Regions from separate parts of the Homo sapiens genome. Here region 2 is linked to region 1. Evidence: fine-mapped expression QTL. A gene starts in region 1. The other region holds a variant in brackets. All regions are shown on one strand. Distances are between the middles of the regions. Region 1 holds the start of DYRK1B (dual specificity tyrosine phosphorylation regulated kinase 1B). Region 2 overlaps LOC124904719 (a long non-coding RNA gene).

The links. PIP is the estimated chance that this variant, and not a neighbour inherited with it, causes the effect.
Region 2: its variant is the best candidate, but not a certain one, in a credible set for the expression of DYRK1B in whole blood (INTERVAL, PIP 0.76).

Annotation. Positions count from the first base shown.
Region 1 is chr19:39,831,438-39,836,817 of GRCh38, reverse strand. DYRK1B (dual specificity tyrosine phosphorylation regulated kinase 1B) reads left to right here and starts at 2,656. Exons shown (of 11, transcript NM_004714.3): 1 at 2,656-2,795; 2 at 4,850-5,013. The coding sequence starts at 4,951. FBL (fibrillarin) reads left to right here. Exons shown (of 9, transcript NM_001436.4): 7 at 150-262; 8 at 2,005-2,150; 9 at 2,256-2,360. The coding sequence ends at 2,280. RefSeq lists silencers at 2,844-2,953, 3,214-3,483.
Region 2 is chr19:39,797,273-39,802,652 of GRCh38, reverse strand. All of the region lies in intron 1 of LOC124904719 (a long non-coding RNA gene), which reads left to right. Among named protein-coding and RNA genes, the nearest start is that of LEUTX, 21 kb to the right of the region's middle. The variant T/G (reference allele first, on the strand shown) is at 2,503.

The DNA.
Region 1 (5,380 bases):
GGAGGGAGGGGGACCAGTGGAGGTGGGGAGTGAAACTGGAGGCAGGGAGAATCTCCCAGGAACCTGCTGGTGATGGGCATAGGCCCCATGGGAGGATCTGGGGTGATCCCTGTGACTCCAACTTTTAACTGCTGCTCCTTTCTCCTTAGCAATGGTGGATGTGATCTTTGCTGATGTGGCCCAGCCAGACCAGACCCGGATTGTGGCCCTGAATGCCCACACCTTCCTGCGTAATGGAGGACACTTTGTGATTTCCATTAAGGTGCGGGGTTTGGAAGAGTCTAAGATGGGGTGGCAGTGTTCTAGGGAGGTATCTTCTCTATCTGTATCTGTCAAATAGCCACCCAAAACAGAGGGGCCAAGTCTGCAAAACTATAGCTTTGGATTTAAAGAGGCAGGAGAGTGCAGCGGTCAAGTGCAAAATTGAGTCTGACCATCTGAGTTTAATCCCAGCCTGCTGTGTGACTGAGCAAGTTACTTAACCTATATGCCTCAGTTTCCTCACTTATGAAATAGAAATATTGTCTAGTCTTTTTCAGGGTAGATGACAGGATCAAATTAGTCAATATAATATGAAGTGTTTAGAAAAGATCCTGGCATAGAATAGATACTAGATAAAAGCTAGGTGCATCTTTCACAGCATTTTTATTTGGAAATAATGGAGAACTCTCCCATGCACCCTTCACAAGGTTCACCATTTGTTAGCCTTTTGCTACATTTGTTTTATTATTCTCAACTGCATTATTACTATTATTAAAGAAGAGGAAGTAGAAATAAGCCAAACAATTCCTGGGTATAAAATTTAAGCACTGGCTTTTAGATAAATAGGACTGTTTAAGGCTTCCTGCTTCAAATCCAAAACAAAACTAAAAACTTTTTTTTTTTTTAATTTGAGACAGAGTCTCGCTCTGTCACCAAGGCTGGCGTGAAGTGGTGCAATCTCAGCTCACTGCAACCTCTGCCTCCCAGGTTCAAGCAATTCTTCTGCCTCAGCCTCCTAAGTAGCTGGGACTACAGGCGTGTGCCACCACACCTGGCTAACTTTTATATTTTTAGTGGAGACGGGGTTTTGCCATGTTGCTCAGGCTGCTCTGGAGCTCCTGAGCTCAGGCAATCTGCCTGTCTCAGGCTCCCAAAGTGCTAGGATTACAGGCACGAGCCACTGCACCCAGCCAAAAACTTTCATTAAGCCTTTTATCACATTTCCTAAACCCGAGTGTCTTAGCCCATTTTATGCAGCTATCACAGAATGCTATAGACTGGGTAATTTATTTATTTTTATTTTTATTTTTATTTTTTTGAGATGGAGTCTTACTCTGTCACCAGGTTGGAGTGCAGTGGTACGATCTCGGCTCACTGCAACCTCCAGTTCCTGGGTTCAAGCGATTCTCCTGCGTCAGCTTCCCGAGTAGGTGGGACTACAGGTGTGCGCCACCACACCCGACTAATTTTTGTATTTTTAGTAGAGATAGGGTTTCACCGTGTTGGCCAGGATGGTCTCAATCTCCTGATTTCGTGATTGAGCCACCTCGGCCTCCCAAAGTGCTGGGATTACAGGCGTGAGCCACCACGCCCAGCCTTAGACTGGGTAATTTATAATGAATGGAAATTTATTTGGCTCCCAGTTCCAAAGGCTGGAAAGTCCAAGATTGGAGGTCTGAATCTGGCGAGGGCCTTCTTGCTGTCATCCATTGGCAGAAGGGTGAGAGCAAGATAGAAAGGGGGCATAATCATCCTTTTAATCAGCAACCCACTCTTGTGATAATAGCATTACTCTATTCAGGAAGGCAGAGGCCTCATGACCTGAATCATCTCTCGAAGGTCCCACCTCTCAACTCTTGCATTTAAGGGTTACGTTTCCAACACATGAACTTTGGGGGACACACTAGAACCATAGCACTGAGTTTTACTTGAATTAATAATGAAAACATCTGGTTTAAAGAGCACACAAGAGAAAAACAGCCCAAAGCCCTGTTGTAGACATTAGTCCTTTCTCCTCTTTAGGCCAACTGCATTGACTCCACAGCCTCAGCCGAGGCCGTGTTTGCCTCCGAAGTGAAAAAGATGCAACAGGAGAACATGAAGCCGCAGGAGCAGTTGACCCTTGAGCCATATGAAAGAGACCATGCCGTGGTCGTGGGAGTGTACAGGTGAGCAGGGGCCCAGCAATACACCAAGACAGACATCTCTGTCCCTTGCACCCCGAGTGCCATGATCCTGGGGACCCTCCTTCATCACCTATCTTCCTCTCACAGGCCACCCCCCAAGGTGAAGAACTGAAGTTCAGCGCTGTCAGGATTGCGAGAGATGTGTGTTGATACTGTTGCACGTGTGTTTTTCTATTAAAAGACTCATCCGTCTCCCATGTCTGCTGCTCATTCCTCCCCTTGACCTGCTGACACAGGGAGCACGCACCCTTGGTCAATTTTGCGGGGTTGGGTAAATTCTCACTCGGTCACAGAGCGCATGCTCCGTTTCTAGCTGCCTTTGCGCAGCGGCAGCCTGGATTTCGGTTCTTGGGTGGGATTGGTAGCTCGCTGCGCATGCGTGCAGGTAAGCGGCCATCTCGCGCAGGCGGAGTGTCAGTGTGGGTCACGTGAGGGGAGCGGAGAGGGAGGGATGGGGGCGGAGTCCAGGGCGTGGGGGGGCCGGTTTGTTGTGGTCGCCATTTTGCTGGTTGCATTACTGGGTAATCGGGGCCCTGGCTTGCCGCGTCCGCCGGATACCCTCAGCCAGTGGGCAGGTCTGAGCTCGGGCTCCCCGAGCAGTTTGAGTCCCCTTGCCCGCTCCTTCAGGTAACGGCGCGGGGACGGGTGGGGCGGCAAGCGGTCGCAGGGAGGTGGGCAGGACGGGATCCGCCCTGCTCCCGTCGCCGTGAGACTTAGCACGAGGCCAAGGGAGGAGAGGAGGGGGGTGGCAGGCAGGTGCGGGCCCTGCCTGGCTATTCATAGTTGAATTCCTGGAACCGGCCAAGCCCGAGGAAGCAGTTGCAGGAGGGAGGCTGGGAGGGGGTAGCCGGGCCCCACTCCCGCCCTTTGTTTGGGCTCAGCTCCGCGGGCCGCTTCTTCGTCGCCTAGCAACAGCTGCCCTAGGCTGTGATTGGCTGAGCTCTTGGCACCAGCGACCAATGGTACAGTTGTTGCCATGGCAGGTGCCGATTGCCAAGCTCAGTCGGGCCCCGCCTTCCGGTCTCAGCAGGCCCAGGAGGGCCTCCTGGGTGGGGGGCGGGACGCCGGGTCCCTAGGGGCTGGTGGTCACTCAGGGTGGGGCGTGTCGCCCCTCCCCCGTCCACCTGCTCTACTCTTCCCCCGCGTGCCCTGGGCTGACCCTTGTCCCCTCCTCTCCCCGCCCCCGGTGGCAGTGGCGGCTGCTGTTGTCACCCACCGGGCCTCCTGTCCCGCTTGCCCTCCCCGCCGCGGGGCCGGCCGGGCCAGAGACAGGCGGTCGCCTTTTCAGCGCCGCCACCGCCGCCATGCTGGCCGCTCGCCCACCCCACTGGGGGCCCCACCGCGCCCCAGCCCCCCGTGGGCCCCGCGCCAGCCCTGACCCGGGTAGGGGGTGGGGGCTGGGAGAGATGATCCTGGTGTGGGAGGGCCCCGGAGAAGAGGTGGTTTTTTGGGGGAAGCTCCAAGGGTGGAGGAGTCGTGGAGTGGCAAGGCATGGAATAGGAGAAAGGGATTTGACATGGGGGAGAGAGTGGCCCATGGGGAGAAGATTTTTGCTGTAGCTGACAACTCTGGGAGGAGAGAACCCTATGTGATAACTTGGGGATTTGACTTTGAGGCCCTCTAGGAGTGGACACAGTTGTGGAATGACCCTGGTATAAAGAGGGGTGCCTGGAGAAAGGTCTGTGGTAGGAATATTAGGGTGTGTGTGTGTGTGTAGGGGGGCAAGGAAGCAGTGTAGGGGAGAAAAGGATGATCACTCTAAACTGTGGGAAGAGACACCTCCTCCTTCTCCCATCAGGAGGAGTGGGCCTTGATTGGGATGGGATATTGGAGTAATATGGGGAAGAACCCTGTTGTGGTAGGGGGAATTGGGATATGGTACAGGGAGACTACCTGGAAGGCTGGTTCCTAATATGGAGGACCTGAAATAGGGAAGCGGTCTTGGCATGATATGGAGAGGGTCCCCTAGGAAAATCGTGCCCTGGTGGATGAGAATGCTGTAGAGATAGGACTCTGTTCTATAGAGGTTCTCAGATAACTTTGGTGTGGTTGGGAGGTCCCCAAGGACGCTGATGTGGTTTTAGGGCTGCAGAGGACTCTGCTGTGGTTTGGGAGGGGAAGACTCATGTGGTTTGGGAATCCTAGAGTTCTCTGGGTTGAGGGAATCTACTGAGAAGGATAGATCTTAAAGTATTGGCCCTGGCTGTGCTACGGGCTGAGATCCTGATGTTCAGGGAAGACTACAGAAAGTGGCATCTTGTGTTAGGGGCCCTGGGGAGGGCCACGAGTAGTGAGAAAAGAATGAAGCCTACTCCTCTGCATACTGTCTGTGGTTTCTTTTTTCTTTTCCTCCTCTGAATTATTGGTGTCTTCCTGTCCTCCTTTCCCTGTGATGGCTCATATCGACCCCTGCTTGGCCCCCAATCATTGTCTTTTATGTGTTCTCTTTGTGCTGCCTTAATCATTTACTTGATCATTATTTGTCGAGGGACTGCTGTGCCATCCCCCCCCACCTGGCTACCACTTCTCTGCCCCTTCTCTTCATTGCTATCTGCTGCTCCGTTGTGCCCTTTTCCTCTTCTCTCTGTGCCCTGTCTTTCTCATGTCCACTCTTCCCCGCCTGGCACTATTCACATATCCCCTTGTTCCATGTTGTTTTCCCACTTCCTGTCTGCTCTCAGGTCTCAGCGGCGGTGGCAGCCGAGGTGCAGGATGCAAGAAGGCGCCCCCCGGCCGGGCTCCCGCTCCAGGCCTCGCTCCCCTGCGGCCCTCTGAGCCCACCATGGCCGTCCCACCGGGCCATGGTCCCTTCTCTGGCTTCCCAGGGCCCCAGGAGCACACGCAGGTACGCGTTCAGCTGGCTCCTCACCTGCGTGGTGGTAGGGGGAGGCTGGGGATAGAAAGGTCTCCAGACCAAAAGGTAGTGTGGTTGCCCAAGACATTCTTCTGGGCACATAATGGGTCCCATGGGATTGGAAAATAACAGAGGAGTTTTCAGGCAGAGTCAGGGTTTGGAGAGGCTGGGTTCAAATCCTGACCCAGTGGTTAAATTCCTTAGGTTCTCCATACTTGAGTTGGAGAACTCAACTCATTCTGTGAAATGGGGCCAATAATGATACCTACTTCACAGGGTTGTTGTGAGGATTAAATGAGTTAATGGTATGCATGTAAAACACTTAGAATGGTGCCTGGCACATAGTAAATACCCAATA
Region 2 (5,380 bases), 34 kb after region 1:
AATATAGCATATATGTGTATACCTATACACATACACACGTGCACATTTGTACATATAAATAGAGTCAAAAAATTATACAGTGAACACACATGTAGCCATCACATAGCTAAGAAATGGGACATTACCAGTCAAAGACATCTCTAGCATTTGTGGATCCTGGACAAAGAGTACAAATGGAGGCGCCCTATCTATAGCTTACTCCCTTCTCTTGCCTTCCTTGTTGATGTCCTGTACCCCTAAGGAGTTATTCATGCATGTATGTGGATACCAAGCCTGCACATTGGAGCTTGGTGCATGTACCCCACATCACCTCTTGCCTACCCCTTGGGTTTGGGGTGTGCGTACCAGCATGATCTGTTCTGGGTGTCAGGTAGAAGATGGACTAGGAAGAGGCCCAAACAGTTGCTGGAAGCAGGTTTGGGAACATTTGAGTAGGGAATTCTAAGGAATTGGTACTCTGAGCATGGCCTACAATTGCATTGTTCAAGAAGATAGCCACTTATCTTCTTGAAGTTAAATATGGCTATTTATGCTTAATCGAAATGAAATAAAATTTAAAATTCACTTTCTTAGTTACACTAGCCACATTGCAAGTGCTCAATAGCCACATGTGGCTAGTGGCTATTACATTGGACAGGGCAGATATAAACATTTCTATCACTACAGGTGTTTTACTGGACAATGCTAGTTAGGAAAGAGAAGTGCTATGGGTTCTGGAAGAAACGAAATGTTACCCTTACACTGGAAAAAAAGCGGGCAACAGAAACGTCCAGTGAAAGCAACCAGATGTCAGACTGAGCACACAAAGCCTTCAAAGTAGCCATTATAAATCTGTTCAAATAACTAAAGGAAACCCATTTTTTTAAAAAAGGAAAGGAAAGGTATGGTCAAATAAAAAATATCGCTAAAAAGTTAGACATTATAAAATAAAACCAAATGGAAATCGAGAGCTAAAAGTATAATAACCGAAATGAAAAAAATATACTAGAGAAGCTCAATAGTAGATTTGAATTGACAGAAGAATTAGCAAACTTGAAAGTAGAAATAAGGCTGGGTGTGGTGGCTCACGCCTGTAATCCCAGCACTTTGGGAGGCCAAAGCAGGCGGATCATGAGGTCTGGAGATCGAGGCCATCCTGGCTAACATGGTGAAACCCCACCTCTACTAAAAATACAAAACTTAGCCAGGCATGGTGGCACACGTGTAGTCCCAGCTACTCAGGGGGCTGAGGCAGGAGAATCACTTGAACGCAGTGAGCCGAGATTGCGCCACTGCACTCTAGCCTGGGTGACAGAGCGAGACTCCATCTCAAAAAAAAAAAAAAAAAAAAAAGAAAAAGAAAAGAAAATAGAAATAATGCAATCCAAAGAATGGGGGGAAAGAACAAAGATGAAAAAATAAGTAGAGCCCTAGAGAAATGTGGAACACCATTAAGCAAAACAATAGGAATGGCAGAAGGAGAGGAAAGAGAAAGAAACAGAAAAATTGTTCTAATAAACAGTGGCTTAAAACTTCCTAAGTTTATTGAAAAACAATAAAATACCTATCCAAGAAGCTGAATGAACTTCAAGTAGAATGAACACAGACACACACACACACAGACACATCTTGGTAAGAATACTGACAGCCAAGGACAAGGAAAAAAATTGAAAGCAGAAAAAAGAAAATGCCTTGTCACTTACAAGGGAACCCCCAGTAAGAGTAACAGCTTCTTCTCACGATAAAATTAACACGCTTGTAATAGGGCTGGCACTTTGGGAGGCTGAGGCAGGTGGATCACCTGAGGTTGGGAGTTCGAGACCAGCCTGACCAACATGGAGAAACCCCATCTCTACTAAAAATACAAAATTAGCTGGGCGTGGTGGCGCATGCCTGTAATCCCAGCTACGAGGGAGGCTGAGGCAGGAGAATCGCTTGAACTCGGGAGGCAGAGGTTGCAGTGAGCCGAGATCGCGCCATTGCGCTCCAGCCTGCGCAATAAGAGTGAAACTCGGTCTCAAAAAAAAAAAGTGTATAAAAAAATAATTAAAGCAGTGCATTCCTGGGTTTATAATGTTTGATGCAATATGTATAACATCTAACAAAAAGTGGGAAAAGGCAATAGAGCTTCATAGGAACAATGTTTCTATATCTCACTAGGATTAAGTTAGTATAAATCTGAAGCTCATTTTGATAAGATGTATATGATAAGCCGTAGAGCAACCACGGAGGAAATAATTCAGAAATTAGTGAAAAAATCAGTAAAGAAATTAAAATCCTATATTAGAAAACTTTCACTTAATATAAAAGAAAACATAAAGGAGGAATAGAAGAGCAAAAAAGACATAAGACATAGAAAAGAAAAAGTGAAATGGCAAATGTAAATCTAACTATATCATTAATAACTTTAAAAGTGAATGGATTGAATAAATCAAAAGGCAGAGACTTTCAGACTGTATTAAAAAACAATATCCAATGATATTCTGTGTACAGAAGACAAACTTTAGATTCAAAGATACAAAA[T/G]ATTGAAAGTAATAGAAAGAAAAAAGATATATCATGCAAACAGCAACCACAAGGAAGCTGGAACAGCGATACTAATAATGCAAAATAGACTTTAAAAAACGTTACCAGACATAAGAAATATGTTATGATCTACAGGTCACTGTATCAGGAAGATGTAACAATTATAAACACATAGGCATCCAACAACAGAGCCCCGACATGCATTAAATAAATACTGACAGAAATGAAGAAATACACAATAAGCAACAATATTTGGAGATTTTGATACCCAACTTTAAAAAAATGTTGTAACTATATGAGATGATGAATATATTAATTAGCTTAGTTGTGGTAATCATTTCACAATGTATATCAAAACATCACATTGTACATCTTAAATATATACAATTTTTATTTGTCAGTCATACCTCAAGTCAGGAAAAAAATAACGAATAGAACAATTGGGCAGAAAATCAATAAGGAAATAAAACACTTGAGCAACACTATAAACCAACTAGACCTAGCAGATATCTGTAGAACAGGAGAATTTGTATTCTTCTCAAGTGCACATGGAACACTCTCCAGGATAAACCACATGCTAGGCCATAAACCTTGATAAATTTAAAGGAGTAGAAATACAATGCATACTTTCTGATAACAACATAATGAAATTATATATAAATAAAAGACAGAAATCTGGGGAACTCACAAGTATGTGGAAATTAAACAATGCACTCTCTTTTAAATTTTAATTTAATTTAATTTTACGTTCTGGGATACATGTGCAGGATGTGCAGGTTTTTTACATAGGTAAACCTGAGCCAAGGTGGTTTGCTGCACCTGTTAGCCCATCACCTAGGTATTAAGCCCCGCATGCATTACATTTGCTATCCAACCTGATGCTCTCCCTTCACCCACCCCCAGGCCCCAATGTGTGTTGTTCCCCTCCCTGTGTCCATATGTTCTCATAAACAATGCACTTTTAAATAACCAAGAGGTCAAAGAAGAAATTAAAAGGGACTTAGAAAATACTTTGATATAAATGAAAATGAAGACATAATATACCTTATAACTTGTAGGATACAGCAAAAACAGTGCTTAAAAGAAATCTGATAGATGTATATGCCTATATTAAGGAAGTGATTGAAAATAACCTAAATTTTCACCTTAAGACACTGAAAAAGAAGAGCAAGCTACACATAAAGCAAGTAGAAAAAGAAAATAATAAAAGATTGGAGCAGAAATAAGTGAAATAGAGAATAGAAAAACAATAGAGAAAATCAACCAAACCAAGAGTTGACTCTTTTACAAACCAAAATATTGGCAAAACATTGGCTAGATATACCAGGAAAAAATAGCAGACTGGATTACTAGAATCAAAAATGAAAAAGGGACTTCGAAATGTACAATAAATTATTATTTATTATAATTACCATTTTATGCAATAGATTACTAAAGTTTATTCTTCCTGTCTAACTGAAACTGTACCTTTTGATCAACAGTTTCCCTTTCCCCATCCATCTTCCTCCCCAGCCTCTGGTAATCACCATTTTACTCTCCACTTCTGTGAGTTTGACTCTTTTAGATTCCATGTATCTCACATATATATGGAGTCTATTTGTCTTTCTGTGCCTGGCTTATTTCACTTATCATAAATGTCATCATGAAAAATAAGTATGTGAGGTGACAGATTTATTAATTAGTTTTATTTAACCATTTAACAATATAAACATAGCAAAACATCACATTGTACCCCATAAATATATATAATTACTATTTTTTCAATTAAAATAAAATTTAAATTTTTAAAAAAAGAAATGAAAGAGGAGACATTACTACCAACCTTATAGAAATAAATGCTGTGAGCAACTATTTGCTAATAAACTAGATACTTGAGATGAAAAACAAATTTCTAGAAAGACACAAACTACTGAAACTGAGTCTAAGAGAAATAGGACATCTACATAAATCTATAGCAAGCAAAGAAAGTGAATTAATAATATAAAAACTACCCACAAAGAAAACCCTAGGCCCTTCACCACTGACCCTACCAAACATTTGAAGAAGAATTAATATCAGTTCTTCACAAAGGTTTCCAATAAATAGAAGAGGGAACACTGCCCAACTCATTCTTAAGGCCAGTATTACCCTGGTACCAAGACCAAGCAAAGACACCACAAGAAACCTACAGCCCAATATCTTTTTACCAATACAGATGCAAAAATCCTCAAATAAATACTAGCAAATGGAATCCAGTAATATATAAAAAGAAGTACGTACCATGAAAAATGAGCTTTATCACAGGATGAATGCAAGATTGGTTTTACATCCCCAAATCAATTAATATAGTATATCCTATCAGTTGAATACAAAACAAAAACCACATGATCATCTCAATAGATACAAAACAAGCATTTAGCAAAATCCCATTCATGGTAAAAACTCTCAGGAAGTTAACAATAGAAGAGAACTTCCCCAACCTGACACTGGGGCCTCTACGAAGCACATCTAACATCATACTTAGTGAAAACAGACTGGATGCTTTCCCCCGAAGATCAGGAACAAGGCAAAGGTGTCTGCTTCCACCACTTCACCATTGTACTGGAGGTTCTAGTCAGGATAGGCATGAAAGGAAAAAAAAAAAAAAAAAGCATCCATCCAGATTGAAAGGAAGAAGTAAACTCTTTGCAGATGACATGATCTTGTATATAGAAAAATCCTAAGAAGTCCAGCAAATAACTGTTAGAACTATTGAACAAGTTCAGCAAGGTTGCAGGATACCAGGTCAATATATAAAAATCAATTGTATTTCCATATGCTTGCAATGAATAATCTGAAAACGAAATCAAGAAAACAATTCCATTTACAATAGCATCAAAACCAATAAAAAATTCGGAAT